5 separate regions of the Homo sapiens genome follow, and all the other regions are reported to be linked to region 1. The links are microRNA targets in miRTarBase. Many come from high-throughput screens and were not tested one by one. Region 1 holds a microRNA gene; each other region holds the end of a gene's coding sequence. Distances are from middle to middle.

The links. Region 1 holds the annotated microRNA hsa-miR-142-3p (UGUAGUGUUUCCUACUUUAUGGA, at 1,915-1,937, shown strand). A microRNA usually pairs through its seed, bases 2 to 8, with sites in the 3' UTR of a target mRNA and lowers its output. Matches are read on the target gene's strand: a 7mer-m8 pairs with bases 2 to 8, a 7mer-A1 pairs with bases 2 to 7 and ends in A, and an 8mer does both.
Region 2: miRTarBase lists ENTR1 as a target of hsa-miR-142-3p. The part of its 3' UTR that is shown has no 7-base or 8-base seed match.
Region 3: miRTarBase lists MRFAP1 as a target of hsa-miR-142-3p. Seed matches in the 3' UTR shown: 7mer-m8 at 1,557-1,563.
Region 4: miRTarBase lists PSMD12 as a target of hsa-miR-142-3p. The part of its 3' UTR that is shown has no 7-base or 8-base seed match.
Region 5: the mRNA of KRTAP4-5 is a reported target of hsa-miR-142-3p. The part of its 3' UTR that is shown has no 7-base or 8-base seed match.

The regions. Positions count from the first base shown.
Region 1 is chr17:58,328,081-58,333,181 of GRCh38, reverse strand. It overlaps MIR142 (microRNA 142), which reads left to right and starts at 1,864; the gene lies at 1,864-1,950. TSPOAP1 (TSPO associated protein 1) reads left to right here and starts at 4,387. Exons shown (of 32, transcript NM_004758.4): 1 at 4,387-5,101. TSPOAP1-AS1 (TSPOAP1, SUPT4H1 and RNF43 antisense RNA 1) reads right to left here. Exons shown (of 5, transcript NR_038410.1): 2 at 5,061-5,101. It overlaps MIR142HG (MIR142 host genes), which reads left to right and starts at 662. Exons shown (of 1, transcript NR_186557.1): 1 at 662-2,294. RefSeq lists enhancers at 195-264, 765-834, 1,635-1,774, 3,565-3,644, 3,745-3,914 and 1 more and a silencer at 345-654.
Region 2 is chr9:136,398,202-136,403,301 of GRCh38, forward strand. It overlaps ENTR1 (endosome associated trafficking regulator 1), which reads right to left. Exons shown (of 10, transcript NM_001039707.2): 10 at 3,721-4,686. The coding sequence ends at 4,587. SNAPC4 (small nuclear RNA activating complex polypeptide 4) reads right to left here and starts at 1,969. Exons shown (of 24, transcript NM_003086.4): 1 at 1,933-1,969; 2 at 98-236. The coding sequence starts at 227. RefSeq lists enhancers at 1-452, 2,182-3,118 and silencers at 1,627-1,736, 1,807-1,936, 2,007-2,216, 2,367-2,416.
Region 3 is chr4:6,640,289-6,645,369 of GRCh38, forward strand. MRFAP1 (Morf4 family associated protein 1) reads left to right here and starts at 397. Exons shown (of 2, transcript NM_033296.3): 1 at 397-970; 2 at 1,442-2,441. The coding sequence starts at 575. The coding sequence ends at 958. LOC124900653 (a long non-coding RNA gene) reads right to left here and starts at 333. Exons shown (of 2, transcript XR_007058007.1): 1 at 232-333. RefSeq lists a silencer at 1,365-1,434.
Region 4 is chr17:67,336,490-67,341,590 of GRCh38, forward strand. PSMD12 (proteasome 26S subunit, non-ATPase 12) reads right to left here. Exons shown (of 11, transcript NM_002816.5): 11 at 1,427-4,563. The coding sequence ends at 4,354. Among named protein-coding and RNA genes, the nearest start is that of PSMD12, 28 kb to the right of the region's middle.
Region 5 is chr17:41,144,879-41,149,966 of GRCh38, reverse strand. It overlaps KRTAP4-5 (keratin associated protein 4-5), which reads left to right and starts at 142. Exons shown (of 1, transcript NM_033188.4): 1 at 142-1,043. The coding sequence starts at 200. The coding sequence ends at 745.

The DNA of each region.
Region 1 (5,101 bases):
CCCCACAGGTCCCAAAGAGAGCGTGAACACCTAGCCTAGTGCCATCAGTCCACCGGGCCTGAGAGTGTCCCCCGCACTGTGCCCTGCAGGCTGAGGCTGCAGGAGGGGTGGCTTTGTGGGGTGCTGAGGACAACAGTCTCCATGGACGCCCTTCATGCATCAGCACCTCCATGGCCCTCGGGAGCACACGCAGAGGAGCCAGGGCCTGGCCTGAGTGTTGGGAAGGGAAGGGAGTTTTCTGGGCTGAGGTCAGCAGCGGTGGGGCTCAGAGAGAAGGTCCTTTTCTTGTGCTGGAATTCTGGACTCCCCGTTTTGGGCACTCACCGAGGGCCCTGTCGAGGAGCCCTGGTCTTCTGGGGTCACCCTCAATGCCCTGAGTCAGTCCCAGGCTCTTGAGCCATCCCTTGGAGCTGGTGCCACGGGGGGAAGGGCAGCTGGGGCCGGAAGCCACCTGCCCAGGGCATGAGAGAGGGTCCCCAGCCCTCCCGCGGGCCCACCCCCTTCTGTTTCCTGTCAGTCTGTCCTCCCCAGGGAGGGAGGGAGGGAGGGCGCTCATCCCCTGCGGGCGGGGGCGGGGCGCGCTCTGAGACCGTTGGGCGCCCTGAGATCTGGCCCACGTGGCCTCGGGGTTATAAGCCCTGCCCTCCCTGAAGGGAACCCCACTTCGGAGCCTGGAGCACAGGGCGAGCTCTCCTCCGCCCTGCAGCCTCAGGTAAGGATCCGGACCTTCACTGCTGCCCCAACTGGGGCTCCTCAGCTCGGGGCCTCTAGGGGCTTGGGCTGCTGGTCTGGGTGGAGGCGCGTTGGGGGTGTCGAGGAGCTTGGGTGCAAGCCCCATGCGGGAAGCTCAGGGCAAAGCGCCTTGAAACCCTCTCTAGTGAAGGAAGGTAAAATGGCTCCGGGACCCCAGGCGGGGAAAGAGGTGTCCAAGGAGGAGGGCTGGAGAGTAAGGCGGGGATGGCAGAGGGTACGCAGAGGCTGAGAAGTGGGACCAGTGTCTCAAGGGGCGCCAGCCTCTTCCTCCGCCCAACATGGCCACCATTTTTGTTGGGATAGCCTTGGGCTCCTGCCAGGGGAACAGCAGGGCAGTGAGGGAGTCAGGACTTTGGGCTGGTGGGGAGGCCGAGAATCAAGGCTCTGGGGAGTCAGGACTTTGGGGCTGGTGGAGTGGCTGGGGACTGAGGCCCTGGGGGGTCAGGACCTTGGGCTGCTATGGAGGCTGGGACTGAGGCTCTGGGGGAGTCAGGACCTTGAGCTGGTGGGGAGGCTGGGAATTGAGGCCCTGGTGTGTTCAAGACCTTGGGCTGGTGGGGAGGCCAGGGCCTGAGGCCCTGGGGGGTCAGGACCCTGGGCTGTTGGGGAGGCTGGGGACTTAGGCCCTGGGGGGTCAGGATCTTGGGCTGGTGGGGAGGCTGAAGGGTGGGGACTGAGGCTCTGGGCAGTCAGGACCTCACGGTTGGGGTGGACTGGAGACCAAGACCTTGGCAGGGGAGCTGTGGCTGCCTCATTTGGACGCTGGAGGGTGGCTAGCGTGGCTGGAAGCGGCCAGCCAGGGGTTCACAGAACTGAAGGTGAGGCCTCCAGAGGCCCTAGTCTCTACCTGAGTGTCTCTGAAACTGGGGGGATGGGGTGGAGCCTTTAGGGGGAAGGGAAGAGGGAACTGAAGAGGAAGTGGGGGAGGGAGGTAGAGGAGGCAAGTCTGGCGCCATGCTGAGTCACCGCCCACAAGGCCCAGGGCGGGCCCTCGGGGGGCCCTGGCAGGGTTGGGGGGATCTTAGGAAGCCACAAGGAGGGCTGGGGGGCTCTTGGAGCAGGAGTCAGGAGGCCTGGGCAGCCTGAAGAGTACACGCCGACGGACAGACAGACAGTGCAGTCACCCATAAAGTAGAAAGCACTACTAACAGCACTGGAGGGTGTAGTGTTTCCTACTTTATGGATGAGTGTACTGTGGGCTTCGGAGATCACGCCACTGCTGCCGCCCGCTGCCCGCCACCATCTTCCTCGGCGCTCGGGGACCTCGTGTGACAGGTGAGCACCTTACGGCCCCTCCCTACCCTGCCCAGATGCCTGAAAGGCCTCCATGGCTTTCCTGCCCTTCCTGGTTCCGGACAGCTGGGGAAAGGCCACAGCAGCTCCTCTGCTGCCCTGCAGTCTTTGGGGGCGGGGAGGGCTGGACATGTGGAACCCTGATGCAGCCGCAGCGTCAAGGACGAGGAAGGGGTGGGAAGGGATGGTACGTGGAGGGGAATGGGTGGTGGGACCAGGGACCCAATGCTAATAAAGACTGGACTGTGCTTCTCTTTTGTCTGAGACTCTGTTGCTGGGGTGGGGAGCTGAATGCGGGCGGCAGGCACATGGACAGTATGGGCGCACAGAAGGGCTGGGAGGGAGAACCTCTGTCGCTCCTCCAGAAGATACGGGTTTGGCCCTGCCTATGAGATCAGAAGAGGGCTCTGGGCCTGGCCAGGCCACAGCCGGAGGAGAGAAGGGCCTGGGCCATCTGCAGAAAGGGGCAGGGATGTAAGGCATCCTCTCACCTTCTACCCTAGCTCTGGCCCTATCCTGCCCCCCTACATACCCAAACTGAAAGCTGCCTACATCCAGTTTTAATCTAAGAAAGTCTAGGGGGTCCTAGGTCATATAAAAATTGGGCAAAATCCACTGTGGCACATACACAGCATCTTAGACAAGGGCACAGACACTCATATACAAAGCACACACTGAGATGCAAATGCATTTACACACAGAGGCCCCATTCAGTGTGCCAGTAACACACACACAGACACATGTGACATGACTGGCATGACACACACAGGGATTACACACACCCAGGGCACATACATATTCAGTAGTACACACATGCAATGATAGAAACATAGGGCGTGTCTTACACATAGAAGAGCACACACATACAGTGACATTTGCATAATAAACACGGTGGCTCCATACACATACATAGATAGAGACATGTTCATATATCATGATAAATATAGAATACATAGATACATGGTGATATATATATATAAATCAAACCATGTCATTATGCATATTTACATGACGATATGAGCATGTCATATATTGTGTAATCAATTACTACATTGTGCCATATAGTAGCATCCATATCTATATATATCATGATGTGTTGTAATTTATAAACTCATGCAATGATAGCCTCCCATGCACATAACAGCACACACATAGACACAGTGGCAAACAAACATAGATGCAATGACACAGAAACATACATACAGATACACCCAATGTGTTTTTGTTACGTTTTATTATGTGACTCATAGACACATAATAGCACACACATATATACACACAATGGCCCCTTCACATATACAGAAATAGATAATGTCTATTCTATAGATGCATACTATACACACGCATGCGCATAATGGCATGCATATATACTCTGACCTAAACAGCAACACATCATGCAGTGGCGTGCGTGTTGACCTACACACTGCTTTAGGGAAGTGAAGATGTCCACTCCTCCCCATGCACCCCCTACCTCCAGTTCCATTGGCTCTTGCCTGGGTGGAGCCCACAGTCAGGGGCTCTAGGGTTCAGTATCACCGCTGCTATTCTGTGGGGGTGCCACACGAGGGCCCCCGACCTTGGCTGAAACTGGCTTGCCTAATGAGTCCCGGGTTCAGAGTGGAGAGGGGCTGCCTCTCGGGGCTTCTCCCAACACCCCTGGCTCTGGGGACTCTGTCTAGACCCCTGCCACTGCATATAGACTGACTCCTGGCTGAGGGGATTCTCACGTCCTTGTCCCCCAAATTATTTAGCAACAAGATCTAAGGCTAGACAGAAGATGAACTTCCAGGCAATTCGGGACAAAGCCAACCCAACAGGCCATGTGGGCTTCCCTGGTGGCCTGGGACAGCCAGGTTGCCCCCCAAGTGCAATCTGCCAGGAGGAAGCAGAAGGAATTCTCCGTCTATTTCTACCTGTCTCTTTGCTTGTCTTCCCGGTTTCTTTCTCTTGGTTTCTGTCTCTCTCTTTGTTTCATCTCAAGTCCCATCTTTTCTAGTTCTGCCCTTCTCTGTGGCTGGATCTCTGTCATACCCTCCCCCGTTCTGTCTCTATCAGTCTCACCCGATGTAGGGAGGACCATCTGCACCCCACTCGCCTCTGTACTCCGGAAGGTGTGAGAATGTGTGAAGATGAGGGTGGGAGGCCACATGTGGGAGCCCTGGGCTGACATGCCGTGAGAAACCTGCTCTTCCTTCTGTCCCCGACCCTGTCAGCCGGTTCAGCCCACCAGTCCAGCGCCATCACCATGGAAACCAGCAGCCGACTTCCTATTGGTGGGTGGGAGGGGAGGAGGAGGAGGAGGAGGGGAGGGCTGGCTCTTCCCGGCTCACCCCCCCACCCAATTCTGAGGCTCAGCCCTCCTCGGAGCCCACCATCTCGAGGCTCCTGGACTGTAAGGGACCCCTGCAGTCCCCAGAGCAGAGGCCAGCAGGGGCTGAGACTATGAGGCAAGCAGCCCATCGACCCAGGCCTCCTTAGGACCAGCCCAGCCACCCAGCAAGCGAAAGAGCAGCAGCAGAGAGCAGAGCCGGAGATAAAGGACCACAGCGGACCACTGGGGATCACCCCCAGCAGCTCCTGAAGCCTCTGGCCGGGCTGAGGGGTTGCGACAGACGGCCAGACCCACAGACACTGACAGACACACAACGACACCGATGCACACAGCTGCACGACACTGACACACTCAGATACAACCAGGGACAGCATCACATACTGCCACAGCCCTGCAATACAGACACCCACACACACACACACAAACAACTGGCAACTCTGAAATGGGCAGACAGTGACACACAGCACCACCCCCCTCAACACACAGAAGTGGGGGCACCCATCTTCCCAACACATGAGACAGCATTGACCTGCACGGACAGACCTGGAGACACACACACGCACCCTCACCCAGGCGCAGCTGTCGGTGGCCTCTGCACATCCTCCCTACCCCCACAGGGACACCCTCGCTCCTCCACATACTCGCGCACACACACAGCTACCAGCAAACATAGCTCACATACCCCTGGCTCCAGCTCCAGCAGCCCTGGCGCCTTCTGCAGCC
Region 2 (5,100 bases), not on the chromosome of region 1:
CCGGCTACCATCACTCCCTAATGTGCCTGAGAGGAACCCAGGAGGCAGACCAGCTGTTCTTACCAGGACCCCAGGAGGCTAGGTACAAGGGGCTTACCTGCTTCAGAATCTGACTCGAGACTTGATTCTGAGATCTCCACGTGGGAGCCCGAGGAGCCGGGATCCAAAATCCTTTCCAGCTCCTTGATCTCCTGTGTTATCTTCTCTCTTTCAGCATCTACATCCATGACTCCCGCCTGCCTCCAAAACACACCCCGAGATGTTAGAAACCAAGACCGTGCCGGGATCCCATTCTCCTTCAGACACACCCGCCCATGGGGGATGGCAGGAGCCTGCTCGGCAGTGGGCACTGGGCTCCCCAGAGAAAGATTAATAGGCCAGGCACAGAATCGGGGAACCCTGGGACAGGAACCTCAGACCCCACAAACTCCTGCTATGTGCTCTGCCAGGAGCCTAAGCCCCAAGAACATCTCCCGCCTGCTCTGAGGCTGCAACCAGCACAGGCAGGGAGTGGATGAACAAGGACAGGCCCCACTGTCCCGTCTCTGCTCCCACACCAAGCCACATGGAAACTGGCCACCCAGCGTAGAAGGTGTGGGGTGCAGTGGCAAAGTCACTACAGGGCAAGGACACAGCCCGTGACCCACTTTGGCCATCCTGCTCTCCCATGACACAGAGCCGGACCACAGAGGGCATTTGAGAAACGTTCACAGAGACACACACTGAGACTGCCCAGGTGGCAGGCACTAACAGCATGGTTGGGAAGGAAGCTCCCAAAGGGAAGGCTGGCTGTTCTCTGTACATCCAGAACAACGCCTGGAACGTGGCAGTGCCTGACACTAACAAATGTTTGTCAAGCTTTTTTCTTAGGAACTGTGGTCCAGGAAGTCTGAAGGGAGAAGGACGCTAGAGAGAGAGTGGGAGAATGAAACATTAGCAGAGAAAATCTAAAGGAATCACTAGCACAGACCCGGGAGCCCAAAACACCCAACAACAAAGAGAAACGCCCTCCCCCGTCCTTGGCGTGGCTCTCCCTGCTGGAGGCTGACTGGGGCCCTGCCCAACTGGAACAAAACCAAAGCATCCACCCGCGAGCACCGTTAGCCGCATCAGCAGCCCAGGTCCCCTCACTCCTTCACAAAGCCCCTTGTTTATGCCCGAAATGCTTGTGAACCTGTAAACTCAGTTAACAGCCGGCCAGAGGCAGAGCTGGCAGCGACCGCAGGCTGGTTCAGCGCCTCCGGGCCGGCGGAGACGCTTTCCTCTGGAAGCCTCACACGAGGCTGCTGCCTCCCCCTCCCCGTGTCGCTCAGGTGAGCAATGATCAGCAGGAAGGAGGTCAAAGTCACACGTGCTGAGCCACTGACATCAGGGGCTGTCCCTCTCCCCGCACCCCTCTCCCAAGGGCTGGTCATGAGGGCTGCCCACCAAGACGGAGCGCAGCAGGCGGTCCCTCCAGCCCCAGCTGCGGGGACGCCACCCAGACTCGGCTGGGCCCAGGGAACCCCAGGATGCGCCAGGACGATGGGCGTTTAGGCACTGGCTTGGGAGACAGACCCGGCCCAGGCCCAGTTCCGCCTCCTGCTCGCTGCGTGAACTGGGGAAACCCCCTCCGAGGCTCGGCCACCGCGGAATCGCCGGCGCAGTCCCCGAGACGCACGCGGGCGCCCTGCAGCCGGGGCCGCCCCGCCGGAGCCTCCTCGGAGCCCGCAGCCCGCTCCCAGCCGAGGGGCTCCCAGGGCCAGAATCCCCGCGCGCCCAGGCTCGGCCGGACGGGGGCCACGCCGGGCCTCAGTTTCCCCGACTTTGGGCGCTGCCCCGCCCCCGTCCCGGGCCTCGGCTATCCGCTCCTCGGGACAGCGCCCCCTCCACGGGGAGAGCCCTGAAGCTGCCGACGCCACCCGCGCCTCACCTGCTGGGCGCACACCTTACCTGGCCGCGCGGACCCCGCCGTCGCCCGGGCGACTGCAGACTCGACGCTTCCGGCGGCTGCAGAACAAGAGCGCCGCGCGCCGGAAGTCCCGCCTCCTGAGGCGCGGGGCACGCCGGGACGGCCGCTGCGGCCTGCCGGGACTAGAGAGGCGAACGGCTCGATGCTGCCCTCGCGCGGCCGCCCTGGGGGCCGCCTCCGCGCGCTCTGGAGGGGCGCGGGTGGACGCGGGACCTCAAGGCAGGGGACAGACAGGGACAGGCACCCGGCCACCTGGTCACGATCCGGAAGACCGGCCCTTACTGGCTGTGACCTTCGGCCATCGCTGGACCTCTCTGTGCTTGTTTCATCCTCTGTTAACGGACATGTTGGGGTTTGGTTAAGCAACGGATGAGAAAGTCTACGTGAAAGGCTTTTTCCCCAGCCTGCCCTGCATGCTCAGGATCGCCGAGGCCAGGCCGATCTCCAGGCACGTGCAGGAGACTGAGGCCAGAGGGTGGGGGCCCGCACCACACAAACTCGCTTCCCTGGTCACCTGTGCACACCCTCTGGGGTCTCCTGGCCTGGAGAGCTGCCCCGGGGCCCTCCCCTAAGTGGGCATTCATTCCTTCAGGAACGTGCCAGGGCTAACTCGGCCGGGAGCTGGGCAGGGGCCTACAGTTCCTGGCTCCTGAGAGCTTCTAAGTATCGGTGCTGCAAAGACATCCTGGGCCCAGCCAGTTGAGGGGGCCTCCACTCCAGCCTGGGGTGAGCTAGGGGCATCAGCTGGAGAACTATAAAGAGGGTTTGCCCTGCCTACCTAGGAGGTGGGCTTTTGGTGGCAAAGGGCTAGGCCCAGGTGAGGCCAAACTGGGAGCTAGGGATTGGCAAGAAACAGATGGAGGGGATGGAACCAGGCGGCTGGGGGCTCCTCGAGCGCCTCGTTTCAGTCCCTGCATCGGGCTTGAAATCTGGAGGCAGAAGGCAGGCACTAAATACCGCGCCACAAATTGTATTTTTAAACTTCTTACTATCAAACGCTTCAAACACAGACATCAAAAGAGAGGGGTGCGCAAAACCCACATGCCCATCCCCACCGCGCTTCCCTGGGCCCCACCTGCTCCATGAGCTGCTGGCATGAGGGCCAGGGGACCACCCCACTTCACACGCATCTGGTGGATGGGACCCGCCTGGCGATCTGGCCTTTGTGACCCCCACCCCATCAAATGCTGTCTCTCCCAAAGGGCCTCAGGGAAGGCCTGTGGCCTGAGGCATCCTCCCCAGATGCCCCCATCCTGCTGCTACAGGGCTCCCAGAGCTGCCTATACACTCAGAACCTCATTCCGGCACTTCCCAACCACAGCACCCTGTCTCAAGTCAGCTCTGCCAACAGAATCCAGAGCCTGCTTTCACCAACCAGCAGGAGCAGGAGGCGCATAGGGCTACGCAGCAGGACCGCTCCACAGTGACTGCTGGAAAGCTCTGGCCTTCACCTGTAGCTAAGGCTAGGGGTCTAGCAATTCAGACGCCTTGTTTGAAAAATTCAACCACATGATCCGAAAAGATGATCCAATGCTAGAATCCAGTCTGTCCAGCTCTGAAACGTGCAGCTGCGTGACTCACACGTCCATCACGTGTGGGTCCCAGTGGTCAGGCCCAGGCAGCAGTGGTCTGAGTCTGCCCCTAACCCCAAGGGCTGAGGACCTGGAGAGAATCTGCCAGCACAAGGCACCAGTTAGGGCAAGAGCAAGTGAGGTGTGGAAGCCCACGGCGTTCTCCAAGGACTGGCTAAGTCAGCAGAGAAGAGACAGTGCGGTGAACTACAGAATTTATTAAATAAGAAAGCTATCAATTGGAACAGGAGGAAAAAAAAGTTTTAAAAAAAATCTATAGGAAAATAGTCAAAAAAGCATTTAGTGCTCATCGCCGTCCCTCTGAGGGGGGCCGTCAGAAAGGCAACTGGGACCTGACAGACCCGGGCACATACTTGAAATTCCTGAATTCTAACCTGCATTGTACAAAATGCCACTTGAAACGTCCACCAGAACCCCCAGCCAAAGAGGCACATCTGGACAGCTTCACAGCACGGAACGTGTGACCTTGGTCCCCGTGGGTCCCGGAGGAGGACAGCAGCAGCCACGCGGTGGCCCCTGCGCACTCAGGCCATGACTGCAGGGACCACCCACTGGGGCCACAAGAGTGACCCGGGAGCCAGAGGGAGCCCTGAGCATCGGCGGAAGGCACAGGTCCCTGCCCGGGGTGGCCATCTCAGAGGCACATTTAGTGTTTGTTCTACTTATGAAATCAAGGACAACCAATTGTACTTATCTTACAACTGATGTTCTGGGATGGGACTGGAAAACATTGATTCCAGAACCACTCTTTTTCTTAAAATCACTGGCTTTTATGACAATGTCTTCCAAGAGCTCATTAGAATCTATAAGATCGCAGGAATTTCGCCAAGAAGGGCTGCATAGAAACCACAGAGACAACTCGGCCAGGGCTGCTCCCATTGTGGTGGCCAAGAACTGGCTGAGGGCACGACACTGGACTCTTGCGATCAACACTTTACTCTGGGTGAAGACTGCATATTTAAGGACACAACTGCACATTTAGATCGAGCGGTGGTGACCTCAGGGTATACACGGAGCTTCATGCTGAGAACACCCAGGGGTCCTCAAGAGTCTTCCTCCTCGTCTTTAACTTCAGAAATTCTGTCTATAGATTTAAGGATTTCGGCAACAAGATTCAGTGTCTCAGCTCCGGAAACCAGTTGCCTGAAAACAAGCATGGATATCAGGATGGGTGGCAGCAGCTACTCAGCAGCAACAGGGTTCTGGGGGGAGAAAGGGGAGGGGTTGGTAGGGGGAAAAAGGGAGGGGTTCCAAGGGGTAGGGAAAGGGGAGAGGTTCTGAGTGGGAGGAAGGCGAGGGTTTCCAGGGGGAAGAATGGGGAGGGTTTCCACAGGGGGTGGGGGGCAGAAAGGGGAGGGGTTGGTAGGCAGAAAAAGGGGAGAGGTTCTGAGGGGGAGAAAGGGGAGGAATTCCGGGGGTGGGGGTGGGGAAGGAAGGGGAGGGTTTCCAGAGCGGGGAGGGATTCCACAGGGGAAGGGTTCTGGCGGGGAGAAAGGTAAGGGGTTCCAGGGAGAAAGGGACAGAATTCTGGGGGGAGAAACAGAAGGGGTCCCAGGG
Region 3 (5,081 bases), not on the chromosome of region 1:
ACCTCAAGCCATCCACCCACCTCGCCTCCCAACGTGCTGAGATTACAGGCGTGAGCCACCGCGCCTGGGAAGTGCGGGAGGCCTTTTTAAAAAATGTAAACTCGCGTGCTCAAGAAGCCCTATCGGAGGGAAACACCCAGAAGAGGCCACCCTCCAAACACAGGGTAAAACAGGGGTGACGCACAGAGGTAACGGGAAAGCAGGAACGAGCGAGAGCGTGCGGTCCCGTACCTGCGCGTGCCTGCGTGCGCGTCCGTGCGGCCGCGACGCCGCCGCCGGTGCCTCTCTTTCTAGACGTGCGCGCGCCCGCAGCTCGCCCCCCTGACCGTAAAGAGGCCCGGCTGTGTCGTGAAAGGGGCCGCAACGCGCAGAGCGCTGGTTGACGGCCGGGACTCCATTTTGTTCGCCGTTACTCTGCGCGTAAGTCGCTTGTCCGTGGCTTCTCTGAGAAGAAAAGTTGAAAAAGGGTAAAAGTTTTCAGGAATATTCGGGCTCTCTATTGCTAAGCATAGCGAGTGTCGGTTTTCTCTCTCCAACAGACATCGCTATTGCGGTTCCGAGGCAGTGGGAAGAGATGCGGCCCCTGGACATCGTCGAGCTGGCGGAACCGGAGGAAGTGGAGGTGCTGGAGCCCGAGGAGGATTTCGAGCAGTTTCTGCTCCCGGTCATCAACGAGATGCGCGAGGACATCGCGTCGCTGACGCGCGAGCACGGGCGGGCGTACCTGCGGAACCGGAGCAAGCTGTGGGAGATGGACAATATGCTCATCCAGATCAAAACGCAGGTGGAGGCCTCGGAGGAGAGCGCCCTCAACCACCTCCAGAACCCGGGCGACGCGGCCGAGGGCCGGGCGGCCAAGAGGTGCGAGAAGGCCGAGGAGAAGGCCAAGGAGATTGCGAAGATGGCAGAGATGCTGGTGGAGCTGGTCCGGCGGATAGAGAAGAGCGAGTCGTCGTGAGCGCGGTCGGCGGTAAGTCGGGCACCCGCGCCAGGCCGAGGAGCGGCCCCAGCTTGGCCGCTCTTCGAGAGCGATGATTTCATCGAGATGCACCGGAATCGGGGGTGGGGCGGGAGAATAAAGGCGTGCTCGGGTCAGGGCCGATCTGGGCCCCGTCTTCGTGTTTTGTTTTTTGACGGTGGCGGCGTGGGATAATCAGAGTGGCCGGGTTTGGGCGTGATGCGTGTTCAGTGGAAGGGTCATAAATCTCAGAGTCGCCAAGGAAACAGAAACGGACAAGGTCCCGGGCCGTCCAGCAAGCGGGGGTGGAAATAGAGGATTTTCGGGGAAGACGTTGGACAAGTCAACGTTGCTAGAGACTGGAGTGAGTCAGGTGGTGGCCAGAAGAGGTGGCGTCCTGCACAGTGGCGTTCGTGAGGGTTTGGGGGTCGTTGTGCCTGGGATTAACCTCTCGATGATGAATTTCTTCCCATTGTGCTTTAGGTTTCCAGCCAATGGATTCTGGTCAACTGGTGGAGATTGGCTGACACCCTGGAGAAGCCGAAACCAGAGAGCCTTTTGTTTTCTCTTTTTTCCTGTCTATGCTCTGTCTCACTTAACACTACGTTTTCTGCTATGGTCTGTGGTTGATGACCTCAATATGAGTTTCGATTGTTAACGTGTTTTTGTTTGGGAAGTAATTTTGTTTGAAAATGCTCTCACATACAGGAATTAGGGCCTAGATTGTAAGCTCTTGCAGCAGTCACATTTGTTCCCGGGCTTTGGTGGTTATTTCTAAATTTTTGAGGTGCTTTGCTATTTCTTGTGTGACCTGATAGCTCCCTGGAACTTTGGGTCTGTGTGTGACACATGAGACTCACAGTTGGAGTTCTCCAGCTCTGGAGGTGCTGAAGGAGCTGCATTAATTCTGGAAGACGACTCCATGCAGCAACTACTGAAGAAAGGACCAGACTTCAACGGGGAGTGTGGATGGGCCGACCTGGCTGGGACTCGTGAATCTGGAGAAGAGCTGGAGAATGGATAGTATTGTCTGTATTTGGAGACTTTAATTTCTGTGTGAGACCAAAGGAGGAGAGATGTGTTTTGTTCAAAATTTAAATTTGTTGTGGTACACTATCTTATGTAACCTGTCTGGTGAGTTTGTTTGGACAACCTAACTCAGCTTTATTTGACATGGAACCTAAAATAGAAGATAAGATCTTGATATTCTGTACAAGTTGATGTAATACCCTGATGCGTTTTAGAGGACTTGGCATAAAATGAAAGATTGGCAAAGGCCCTTGAGGGGCTTGGGGATGACAGTATGGAACTGTCTGCATTGGACCCTAAACTGGACTAGAAGAGGCATCTTCAAGGTTCATACGTTGTCCAGCTGTAAGTTCATTTGAGTAGCAGACCTAACAAATATTTGAGGTCAGAACCCTACCATGTTAAAACAAACAAAAACTTACCATGTTAATAAAAGTATTCATTTGCTTGAAAAGACGAAAGACCTAAAAGGTTATTGAGAAATGTTAGTCCTTTAAGAATGAAATCTGCTGTCTCCCAGATGGTTCTCACTGTCAAATGGAGGGTGAACATCTTAACGGTTTCTGAGGCTCTTAGTCTCTAATCAAAGGGAAGCTTTCTCTCTCTGCTGTTGGGAACCGGGTGAGGAAGAAACACACTTGGTTCTTAGTGTGGGAAGAAACCACATGTAATCCTGTGGTCCAGGCCTCTGCCTTCAGAGAGCCAAAGCACCTTCAGTCTTTCCAATTGGAACATTGTTTTCTAGGCCTTGCACTGGGAATATAGCGATTACAGTTGCAGGGTGAGGGATGACATAGAGGAGATGTGATACCCCACCCTCCTTCCAGATTGAAGCCTTTCTGCCTCAGCTGCTAGAAGTGTTGCTGACAAACACCCTTCAGCTGGTTAGCCCTCTGGGCAGTGCCTTTTCAGAGGAGAGCTGCGTTAGCCAAAGTCATGCCCTTTTCCCTGGGTAGCCTACATCTAGTGAGTAATGGGCTGGAAATCTCAGGTCGCTATTTCTCTTACCCCAATTTGGGACAACTTTGAGGGACATGGTGGCTTCTGAGCTTGTGGGGTCTGCTGAGGCTTTTGTTAGGATTACATCACGCAGCCCACCTCCTCCCCCGTCCCAGCCTTGCATTCCTCCTCTTCCACAAGTGTTAATCCCTAAAAAACGTGCATCTAGTTTTCATCTTGGAGTCCACTTTCTGGGCAACCTAGTTGGTAGAAATCAAACAAAGCCATGTGTCCCTAGCACTAATAAAGATAGAATGTCCCAGGAGAACACTTGAGGGGGAGGTCTAGGAAAGCTTTCCAGAGCAAGTAACTCTTTCAGAGCTTGGCCTTGAAAGAGGAGCACAGCTTCCGAGGTCAGGAAGAGCAGGAGAGGCATGCTAGGCACAGGAAACAATGGAAGATGTTCAAGGTTTTCTGTGTGAGTTCCACACAGAGGAGGGAGAAGAAATGTATAGGACAGAATTATGAACTGGGAAACAACCACGAAAACTACATTTCGTACATTTGCCAAAACAAGAAATGTAACATTGGTACAACACTACCAACTAGACTTTTCTCTGCTTTCACCAGTTTCCCCACTAAGGCCCTTTTTCTGTTCTGGGATACTACATTGCATCGGGAAGTCGATTGTTTTCAATGAGTAAGATTTATAAATGACACGAAAGTGATCCTTCATCTCTCCCCAGCTTCCCAGTTCCCCTCTCAGGAAACTAGAAGTTTCTTATACATCCTTACAAATACTAATGTGTTTGAACGGCTTCCACTTTTTTTTGTTTTTGGTGAGACAGGGTCTCTGTGTCTCACAGGCTGGAATGCAGTGTTGTGACCACTCACTGCAGCCTTGACTTCCTGGTGTCAGGTGATCCTCCCACCTCAGCCTCCCTGGTAGCTGGGACCAGGCATACACCACCATTTCTGGCTAATTTTTGTATTTTTTTTTTTTTTTTTTTGTGGAGGTGGGGTTTCGCTATTTGTCCAGGCTGGTCTTGAACTCTTGGGCTCAAGTGATCACCTTAGCCTCCTGAGTAACTGGAACACCACCGCGGTTAATTTTTGTATTTTTTGTAGACAGTTGTTTGCCATCTTGGCCATTTTGGTCTCAAATTCCTGAGCTCAAGCCATCCACCCACCTTGGCCTCCCAAAGTGCTAGCAATACAGGCATGAGCCACTGCGCCCAGGCCACCTGTTTGTTTTGTTTTGTTTTTTACATTAATGGTAGCACACTGTATAATCTGTTCGTGTCCTTCATTTGTTTACTTGGAAGTCTTTTCCTATCTAACATCTAAATCTGCATTCTTTTTTTTTTTAAGGCTGCATAGTGTTCATTCTTATGCCAGAGTTTGAAAACTATTGTCCTAAAATCTTTCCAGTAACTCCTTAGTTCCTCTTTTTTATGATTCTGGTCACAACTGCAATGCAGCCACTAATTCCCAATTGCCCCAGCTCCTGAATTTCATACTCCTGGCTTGCTAGCAATTGGAGGAGCAATCCAATCTTGCATTTTCTAAGCAAAGAATGTGGTAAGAAGCATTCTGAGAGACAGTCTTACGTGGCTGTACAGTCATTAAATTTTCTGGCTGGAGTTGCCATATTTATTTATTTGTTTATTTATTTATTGAGACAGGGTCTAACTCTGTTGCCCAGGCTGGAGTGTAGTGGCATGATCTTGGCTCACTGCAACTTCTGCCTCCCAGGGCTCAAGCAATTCTCCTGCCTCAGCCTCCCGCGTAGCTGGGGTTACATGTGGGTGCCACCATGCCCTGCTAATTTTGGCATTTTTAGTAGAGACAGGGTTTCACTATGTTGGCCAGGCTGGTCTTGAATTCCTGGCCTCAAGTGATCCACCTGCCTTGGCCTCCCAAAGTCCTGGTATTACAGGATGGCAGAGCTGGAAATAACCTCAGAGAGCAATGAAGCTTTTCTGGGTTAAAATGTAGAAGTCATTAGTGCTGTTCACCAAATAAATTCCAATTCTCTGCCTTCTAGGCACAGAGTAAGATGGCACTTTCTGGCCCCCTTGGGGTTGGGTGGGCCCACGTGATTAATTCTGGCCGATGAGCTACAAAGGAAACTTACATCTGTTGCATCCAACCC
Region 4 (5,101 bases), 9.0 Mb from region 1:
GAGGCAGGAGAATGGCGTGAACCTGGGAGGCGGAGCTTGCAGTGAGCCGAGGTTGCGCCACCGCACTCCAGCCTGGGCAACAGAGCGAGACTCCGTCTCAAAAAATAAAAACAATAAAAAATAAAAAAAAATAAAGCTCTAAGTTAGGAAAATTGTTTAATATCCTCTCAAAAATGCCAAGACCATTTCTCTGCATCACAGAAGGCAGTATGGAAGCAGACTTTCAAACCACTAAACTCCTAAAACAACGGGCTCCGGATGAGCATCTCGCTGTAGCTTTACCGCCACATGTACCTTAACTGATATCCATGTTTTTTTCCCCTAAACATCTAAAACACCAACACATTTCAGTTCTTTTCTAGTCCTTACTACCCATGTTGTCAAGAAGAGTGGTTCTCAAAGTGCGGTCCATGGACCAGTAGTTCGGGTACTGAGAACTTGTTAGAAATTAAAATTCGTGGGCCCCGCTCCATCCCGACTGAGTGTGAATCTGGGGGTGGAGCCCAGCATCTGTGTGTAACAAGCCCCGCGCATATTCTGATGGGCCTTGAGATGAAGAACCACTTGTCAGGTGCCCAATAAAGCACGGCCTAAGCCACCAACCCCAAATCGGGAGTTTAGGAGGGGCAAAGTCCGTCAGCTGGCTTTCGAAACATGTGCAAGGTGTTTTGTCACCGCTTAAAAGGCAGGTTCAGATTCATCCAAAGGATTTGAAAACTTGGTCCACACAAAAACCTGCACACAGATGTTTAGTTTTATTTGTAATTGCCAAAATGTATAAGCAAGGTGTCCCTCAGGAGCTGAATGGATAAACTGTGGTACAACCAGACAATGGAATATTACTCAGCACTAAAGAGAAATAAGCTATCAAGCCATGAAAAGATGTGGAGGAAATGGAAATGCGTATTACTAAGTGAAAGAAGCCGATCTAAAAAAAAAGGCTACCTACTGTGATTCCAACTATATGACATTCTGAAAAAGGGAAAAACTATGGAAACCGTAGACTCACAATTGTCAGGGGATTTGCAGGAAGATATGAACTGGCAGAGAACTGTGGGGCGGTGAAGTATTATGGTAGTATAATGGTGGATACATGCCATTATACATTTGTCCAAACACACAGAATGTACAAGAATGAACCGTAAACTACGGACTTTGGGTGATAATGGTGTCAAAACAGGTTCATTAGCTGTAAAAAATGTGCCACTCTGTGGGGGATGTTGACAATGAGGGAGGTGTGAGAGCAAGGAGGATATGGGAAATTTCTGTACCTTCCACTTACTTTTGCTGTGAATCTAAAATTGCTCTAAAAATATAATAAAGTCTTAAAAGACAAAACAAAAAAGTAGGTTTAGAGAGAGATGATTTGGGGTAAAAATGAAAATTATGGCTTTTTGTTTCAGACAATGAGAACTGAAAAGAGAAGTGATCTTTTAAAGTATGAGTTTATTCTCCAGGTTTTCTTAAATACCCACAAATTAGTGTTTTTATTGCTGCTATATCCAAGAGCTGAAAACAATTTAAAATATGTACTTTTATCACATTTAACACTTACAAGAGAGAAAATGGAACTGTTTGAATTTTAAAGATGTTTTTCAGATTCAGTAACATATGGAAATTGAGGATAATCATAGAAACAGCTATTGAACTCTAAAATAAAAAAATTATATGGAAATAAAAGGTATTTCATTTGAAAAATGGCTCATCACCTCTCCTGCTGGTTAATACACTAATGACAATGAAATGGAATCAAGTGTTATCTTCTCCACATTTAAAACAAAGTGCTTCTTCTCCTGATTGCCAGCTTTAGGTCTGAAATGTAAAACAGGATTAATTGAGGTTCCGAACAACTCAAATATTTCACTATTGTACTTTATGCTAATGAATTATTTTGTAATACTAAGAAAATAAATTGGTAAATACCTCATATATTTGCTGGATTAATGTTTGACAGGAAAAAACACGAAATGGATGAACAGCTGATCGAGTCGAGTGCAATTTGGTCACTGGGACACAGTTACAAATAGCACTGAATCATAATACACAAAGAGCCTAGTGTGTGTTAAAGAAAGACGAAAGAGGAGTTGGGTGCAGTGGCTCATGCCTGTAATCCCAGCACTTTGGGCAGCCAAGGCGGGTGGATCACCTGAGGTCAGGAGTTTGAGACCAGCCCGGCCAACATGATGAAACCATCTCTACTAAAAACACAAAAATTAGCTAGGTGTGGTGGCAGGCGCCTATAATCCCAGCTACTTGGGAGGTTGAGGCAGGAGAACTGCTTGAATATGGGAGGCAAAGGTTGCAGTGAGCCGAGATCGTGACACTGCAATCCAGCCTGGGCAACAAGAGTGAAACTCCGTCTCAAAAAATATGAAAAAAATAAAGAGGAGGAACACTTGCAATCTCTATAGCAACCTATTTGGCCAAATAGTCCAGGTTTGACAAGCCCACAGGTAATGAGTCTCTAGAAAGATGAAGTTATTGAGAAGCTAGTTTCAAATTAGCTCCAATTTTATTTACATGTTAACAATACACAATTTTATCTTCTATCCTTTTCATTCAAAGGAAAATTAAAACCATACTCTGTTAGTGTGAACTTCTGTTTCTGAACTTTCCAGTTTTGTTTTTTTTTTTTTGAGACGGAGTCTCACTCTGTCACCCAGGCTGGAGTGCAATGGTGTGATCTTGGCTCACTGCAACCTCCGCCTCCTGGCTTCAAGGAATTCTCCCACCTCAGCCTCCCAAGTAACTGGGACTACAGGCACACGCCACCACGCCCGGCAAATTTTTGTATTTTTTTTAGTAGAGACAGGGTTTTGCCATGTTGGCCAGGCTAGTCTCGAAATCCTGACCTTAGATGATCCACCCGCCTTGGCCTCCCAAAGTGCTGGGATCCACTGCACCCGGCCTTTTTTGGTTAGTTTTAAAAAGATAAGTGATAGCAGATGTTGATGTTATTAGTGTGACCAATGCATTGAATTTCCAAAGAATAAAATCAGATTACTTCAGTACTGTATGTCATTATTCACAATGACTCACAGGATAAATATGACAGATATCCCACAACTGTCTTCAGTCCTGGGATCATAAAATAGGACAATTGATAATCTTCCATTAAGTGGAAAATTAATTAGGAGAAATGCCATTTCTAGAATGCTGTTTTTCTTTTTCTCTTCATTTGAATTTTTTTAAAGTAGACCTCACACTTTCTTTATTTAAGTATCATTTTAAATAACCTTCTAACATTGTTTTTTCTATTTTCTCTGAAATAAATCAAATTAAACTTGCAAAATTCGTTCACACCAATTCATCTCAGGTGTTTCTTTGACAGCAAGCTACTTTTAATTCCGTGAAAATATTTTAATACTACACCACTTACTATGAGGGTGGCCTGACGTCTTTTTGCCATTTTTTTAAAGCATTAAAAAAAATTAGGTTATCCAGTGTTCATATAATGGAACTAAAAGTTCCTACAGAGATAATGAATTTGGAACAATAATGATGTAATCAGACTTACAAGTTAAAGCCACAAATAAGCCTTATAAAAACAACTTTATGTTAAATTTAAACCCATATAAAGAAAGGGGAGAGGAAGAAGAGCAAAAAAAAAAAAAAAAAAAAAGTAGTCACTATCCCTATAGAGCGGACTTAACACCCAATAAACTGTGTCAATTATGTCAGCTGATTCTGTTGAACAACTGATCAAGTGAGAGGATGAGGGCTGAAAGCAATCAAGCTACTGTGATTGGAACCAGCCGGACTCAAAAAAAAAAAAAAAAAAGTCTACAGTTTACCAGCATACACACTCAGTCTAGACTTTCCGCCACAATATCAAAGTACAAATTCTTCACAAATCACAACTCTATCCCAAATGTTCTTGTATGCTCTATGTTGCTTTTCTATTCTACTAAATGACTGATAGCTTTACAATGAGATTTGTTTTATTTAAAAAACACTTGCCAAATCACTACCCCACAAAATGTTGAGAATCAGAGGTAACTGTAGAAAGGAAATATGTATATACTGCTTTTATTATTGGAATATGTTTGTTAGTTGAATGAAAACAAACAGTAGCTAAAAAGGTTTCAAATGATAGAAAAACATATCTGGGTAAGTTATGACACAACTTTTTGTGTATTCAGACGACAGAAATCTGTATTTTTGCACCAATTGCAAATGCAAAGTTAACAATGAACTTGGGGAACTGAAAGGTCAAAGGGAGTCTCAAACATATTCACTATTTTAAAATTTAAGACAAAGAAGCTTAGAAAAAAAACCCCAACATATACACCATTATAACAGTCTTTTTTTAATGACTTCCAATTTTAACTTTTTTCTAAAGCACTAAGACCCTTATTGTAGATTATGTATCATCTCCTCTTTGGCTATGAGATGCGTAGTTTTGTTAACCAGAGACATTAATGAGTTCAGTTTCTGAGACCAGTCATTTAATAAATTATTTGGATCCTTGGGTCTCTGGAAGTTGATAATTCCTGCTAATCTGTCTACTTTAGCAAAGATGGTCTTGTTAACTACTAGATTTGAGAGAAAGGCTTCGGACTCCTGCAAGAGAGAAAGATAAATTGGATTAAGACAGGATAAATTACAGACAATAAACAAAACTTCAGAAAAGCATTTTCTGAACTCTTCATCCAAGAATATGCAGGGGAATTCATTCTTAAGAGTTAGTAACACTCAGCTGGGTGTGGTGGCTCACACCTGTAATCCCAGCACTTTGGGAGGCTGAATTGGGTGAATCACTTGAGGTCAGGAGTTCAAGACCAGCCTGAGCAACATGGTGAAACCCCATCTCTACTAAAAATACCAAAATTAGCCAGGCATGGTGGCACACGCCTGTAGTCCCAGCTACTCAGGAGGCTGAGGCAGGAGAATCGCCTGAACCCTGGGAGGTAGAGGTTGAAGTGAGCTGAGATCGCACCAATGCACTCCCACCTGGGCGACAAGGTGAGACTCTGCCTCAAAAAAAAAAAAAAAAAAAAAAAAAGAGTTAGCAACTGCTGACTTCCTATAATAAGTACTTATTTTACTGATAGTCTAGGGAATGAATAGAATCTGAGTAGACTCAGTCAGGGGTGAGTTT
Region 5 (5,088 bases), 17 Mb from region 1:
ACAAGTTTAAACCATTAAATGGGCAAACATTATTGTGTAATCTGATAATCACTTAGTTATTAAGTAAACAAAAACAAGGAAAATGTAGTACCAACAAGACAGCTGGGCAGTATATAAGAGGCTGTGGCCCAAGGACACTTCCAAACTTGAGAACCTCATTCTTCTAGAAATCCACCCAGAACCTCCACCCTCTGACACCATGGTCAGCTCCTGTTGTGGCTCTGTCAGCTCTGAGCAGAGCTGTGGCCTGGAGAACTGCTGCCGCCCCAGCTGCTGCCAGACCACCTGCTGCAGGACCACCTGCTGCCGCCCCAGCTGCTGCAAGCCCCAGTGCTGCCAGTCTGTGTGCTACCAGCCCACCTGCTGCCACCCTAGCTGCTGCATCTCCAGCTGCTGCCGCCCCTATTGCTGTGAATCCAGCTGCTGCCGCCCCTGCTGCTGCCAGACCACCTGCTGCAGGACCACCTGCTGCAGGACCACCTGCTGCTGCCCCAGCTGCTGTGTGTCCAGCTGCTGCAGACCCCAGTGCTGCCAGTCTGTGTGCTGCCAGCCCACTTGCTGCCGTCCCAGCTGCTGCATCTCCAGCTGCTGCCACCCCTCTTGCTGTGAATCCAGCTGCTGCCGCCCCTGCTGCTGCGTGCGTCCAGTCTGTGGCCGAGTCTCCTGCCACACCACTTGCTATCGCCCAACCTGTGTCATCTCCACCTGCCCCCGCCCCTTGTGCTGTGCCTCCTCTTGCTGCTAATGTCTCCTTGTGATATTTGTCATACTATGAATGTCTTCATTAGTCATTTAAAATGCACTGTAGCCAGCCAGTCACTGGAAAAATGAACACTTCCCTGCCAGTTTGTCTCATGTGGCATTCAGAGTGGACATTCAGCTCTTCTAGGAAATGACAGACAATCACATTCATTAAAATATGTTATGCCAGGCCCCAATGCAGTTATTTTTAGATGAGCAGTGTCTTCATTCGAAGGGGACACTAACTGTGATGATCTCATATAATATTGTTTTCATGTATTAATAAACAGCCACTTCCCTAATATTGAAATCTTCTGATTTGTTAGTGATCTCATTGTGCGTGTGTGTGTGTGTGTGTGTGTGTCTTTACCTGTCAGTTCACATCAAGGGCCATCTCTCTTCAAATGCAGGAGAGCATGTTTAAGAGCCTGGGCTCTTGATTCATGTTCCCTGCATTGGAATCACGACTCCCCTAGGTATTTGTTGCGTGGCATGGGGCAAGTTTTTTAACCTCCTCAGGCCTCAGTTTTCTTTCTCTGTGAATAGAGATAATGCATTACATTCTTTAAATGTTAAGAGACATAACCCATGTAATATACTCACCACAGGGCCTGGTACATAATGCAGTATAGGCTCTTAATGGATACAGTTTCTGGCCGAGCGTGGTGGCTCACATTTGCAATCCCAGCACTTTGGGAGGCTGAGTGGGTGGAACACTTGAGGCCAGGAATTCGAGACCAGTGTGGGCAACATAGTGAAATCCCTTCTCTACTGAAAGTACAAAAATTAGTTGGGCGTGTTGGTGCACACCTGTAGTCCCAGCTACTTGGGAGGCTGAAGCAGGTGAATCACTTGAACCCAGGAGGAGGAGGTTGCAGTGAGCCGAGATCATGTCACTGCACTCCAGCCTGGGTGACAGAGCAACTCTGTCTCAATAAATAAATAAATAAATAAATAAATAAATAAATAAATAAATACAATTTCTGCTGTTACTATGATTGAAACAATACCCTGGGCTAGAATAATATCTTAGCATAATTTTCTTTTTGACAGAACAGCAAGAAAATTTGTATCATTGTTGCGCTGTCTTCTACAACTCAAAATTAAGTTTTGGTATATGCCTCAAGTGTCCCTTAAAAACTCCAGCAAGTTGAACATCATGAAGTCATCTACATTTTGTCTGACTGTATTTCTACTTCCAGTATGTTCCATTATTTGTTGTGGAAATTTTGAGTGTTTTCCCTAGCTCAAGTACTTTTTTCTTGTTTCCTTACTTCCCCCTCCCTCCCCTTCTAATCCCTTTACCTTCCCTCCACCTCCCCTCCCCTTGCCTGCCTACCTGCCTTCCTTCCTTCCTTCCTTCTTTCCTTCCTTCCTTCCTTCCTTCCTTCCTTCCTTCCTTCCTTCCTCCCTCACTCCTTCCTTCCTTCCTTCCTTTTTTCCTCTCTTAACATAAAATGATCTTTCAGAACACAGTCTACCTTCTAAGTCAAGATTTCGGGAAATTTATGACATCTGTGGCAGTTTTCTCATAAAAGTTTTACATCTTTTAATTAATAGATGCTCAAAGTCTTAGTATTTCCAGACTGAAACTCCTTTATAATTTTAGCCCCTAATGTTACTGAGGTTTTTTCATTTTCTTGATAGTTTTACTCCTTTGTTTTGGGCTTTAATCACCTTGCTTTGTCTTAAGAGAACATGGGTGGGACTTTTCCTTGAGACTCAGTTTTCTCATCATCAAAACTCAAACAAGTGTTATTCTATGTAGATGAAAAAATGTGTCACAATATGTGCAAAATATCTTATTTATATAAATATAAGGGTTTATATTTCAGCTAATAATCCAAAGTATATTAAAACTGCTTTAAATCCAAAATTTCTATAAATCAGAATTTTATTTATTAGCTGTGTTATATTTCCAAAGAAATGTAACTAAGAGCTAATTATTATTTCTGAAATGTAAAAATAAAGAAGTTTTAAGTTGTCAAGCGACTGCATGAATAGAAGTTAACATTACGTGGGCTTCACTCCAGCCTAAGTTAGGCGTTATGGTCTTAGCATATCATAAAAATGCCTTGCAGACACTTTCAGCTTCAGCCTTTTCCATTCACTCTAAATTATTCTACAGAGTACAGACTTGTCATTTCATACATCAGAATTAACAAACCTTTTATCCTCTCATATGTTTTTCTTTGACAACTGCTCATTACAGGATGCAGGCTTTGGTTTTAACATTATGCTTTATTAGCTAGAGTGAAATCAAAGACTATAGGTTTTATATGGTCTTTTCAGTATTAAAGTATATGAGGCTTGTAATTTCCTGTGTCCACAAGAACTGGGCCACAGCAGGAATGAGATGACACAGTGTATCTGCGTAATAAAGAGACTATTTGCAAAGGTGTAGCTAGAGTTCAGGGAAAGCAACAAGGGAAAGCTCAGTACCCAGGGCTCACAATAACAAGGAGCAGGTACCCCGGGTCTGAAGGCCTATGCAATAATTTGGGTGAAATGTCCCAAGGGTGGCATGCGAAACTTCTTAGAATAAGTATGCACAGACACTCAAGTACAGTCATTGGCTTTGGAGAGAGTTATGGTGCTCTGAAGGGTCCAAAGATGATATGGAAGACATTGTGGTGAAACCCAAGGTAGACATAAATTTATGAATGGGAAAGTGTGACTGCAGTTATTATTCTGTGGTCACATCAGCTTTATCTAAATGCACAGTAGAGATGGATTTTAAGTGAATGAAACATTGACTTAGTTGATGTTTCATTCACTTCAAAGTCTCTCAGTACTATTTGCCCATGCTAAATATATAGCTTTGGAATTGCTCAAGCCTTTCTAGCTAGTAAAACTAAGCAAGATAGAACTCCAGAAAGGCAACAATAGATGCCTGTTTTGATTAAAGAAGTAACTGAAATAAGAGTTTTAATTCCCATGAACTCCCTTATAACAGTCCCATCTGGCCAGTGAGTAAGGAAGAGGTTAATCAACAAGCTTGGTGATTAAACAAGTTGGTTCCACCAATTGTTTCAGCTGCACCACCTAAGTCAGAATTTTACAGGAAACTCAACAAACCTAGTAAGACTCATACGCCACTGCAGACTCAGCTAGTGTATTCTTTTCGATGCCAGTTTCAGAGCCCAGACAGGTGCAATTCACATTTTCATGGCAAGGAACGCAGTATACATATACAATTTTGCAACACAGATATATGAGTTCACTAGCATATTGCCATAACCTATCAAGGCAGACTTGAACTTGATAACCATTAGAAGCATGTTAATACCATACATTGATGACTGTGATACTAGCACATGAAAAATCATTAGTGAATTGAAAATCAAGTCCAGAAATAGACTAACGTACACAAAAGAATTTATTATATGAAAAGGTGGCACTTTAACTCAGTAATGGAAAGATGTATTATTTAATAAATGATGTTGAGCCTTGGTCACATCTGATTATAAAACATTTAAACCTCATATTTTTATCTGTATAAATTCCTAGTAGGTAAAATATTTTAAAATATAAAACATGAAACCTTGAAGTTAACAGAAATTATGGGATAATGCTTATGTAAATTTATAACTGGAAAGGCCTTTTAAAATATGACACATACCCAGGAGCTGTCAAAGAAAAAAATTCATAAATTTTACTGCATCAAAAGCAACATGAGGATAGAGAAAATTCCTTTCATATCTGATTTTGCAGAGAGGTTGTGTGTATAGTGATTAAAAACATGGACCCAGTGCTGGGCTGGCTGAAATAAAATTACATTTCCCCTGCTTACTGGCTTGAATCCCACCTGTGCCTTAAGTTTCTCATCTGTGAAGGGAGGATTATAATAGAATTTACCATACTGGATTGTTGGGACTAGTAATTGAGCGAATATATGTAAAACAGTAGAACAATTGCAAAACATGTCGTTTGTTATTTTGTTATTCCAGCATCCAGCAAAATTCTCAGTATACAATATTTAGAGAAGAAAGAAAAAGAAAGAAAGAAAGAAAAAAGAAGGAAGGAAGGAAGGAAGGAAAGAAAGAAAGGAAAGAAAGAAAGGAAGGAAGGAAGGAAGGAAGGAAGGAAGGAAGGAAGGAAGGAAGGAAGGGAGGGAGGGACAGGAATTCCATAAAACATTGGGTTTTTATTTTGCTTAAGTTTCTGAAAAGAACAAGTGTAGTTAGTGCATAATTGTGCCAACGATTCCATTCTAGTCTTTTAATGTAAATATTTCTTCCTTATCTCTAAATGGCTTATTCTTTTTAAGTTCTTCTTTTTTAGGCACATCTTATCCTTTCTTATTTATTTATCCTTTAAAAACTTTAATTATTGGCTTTAAGTAGG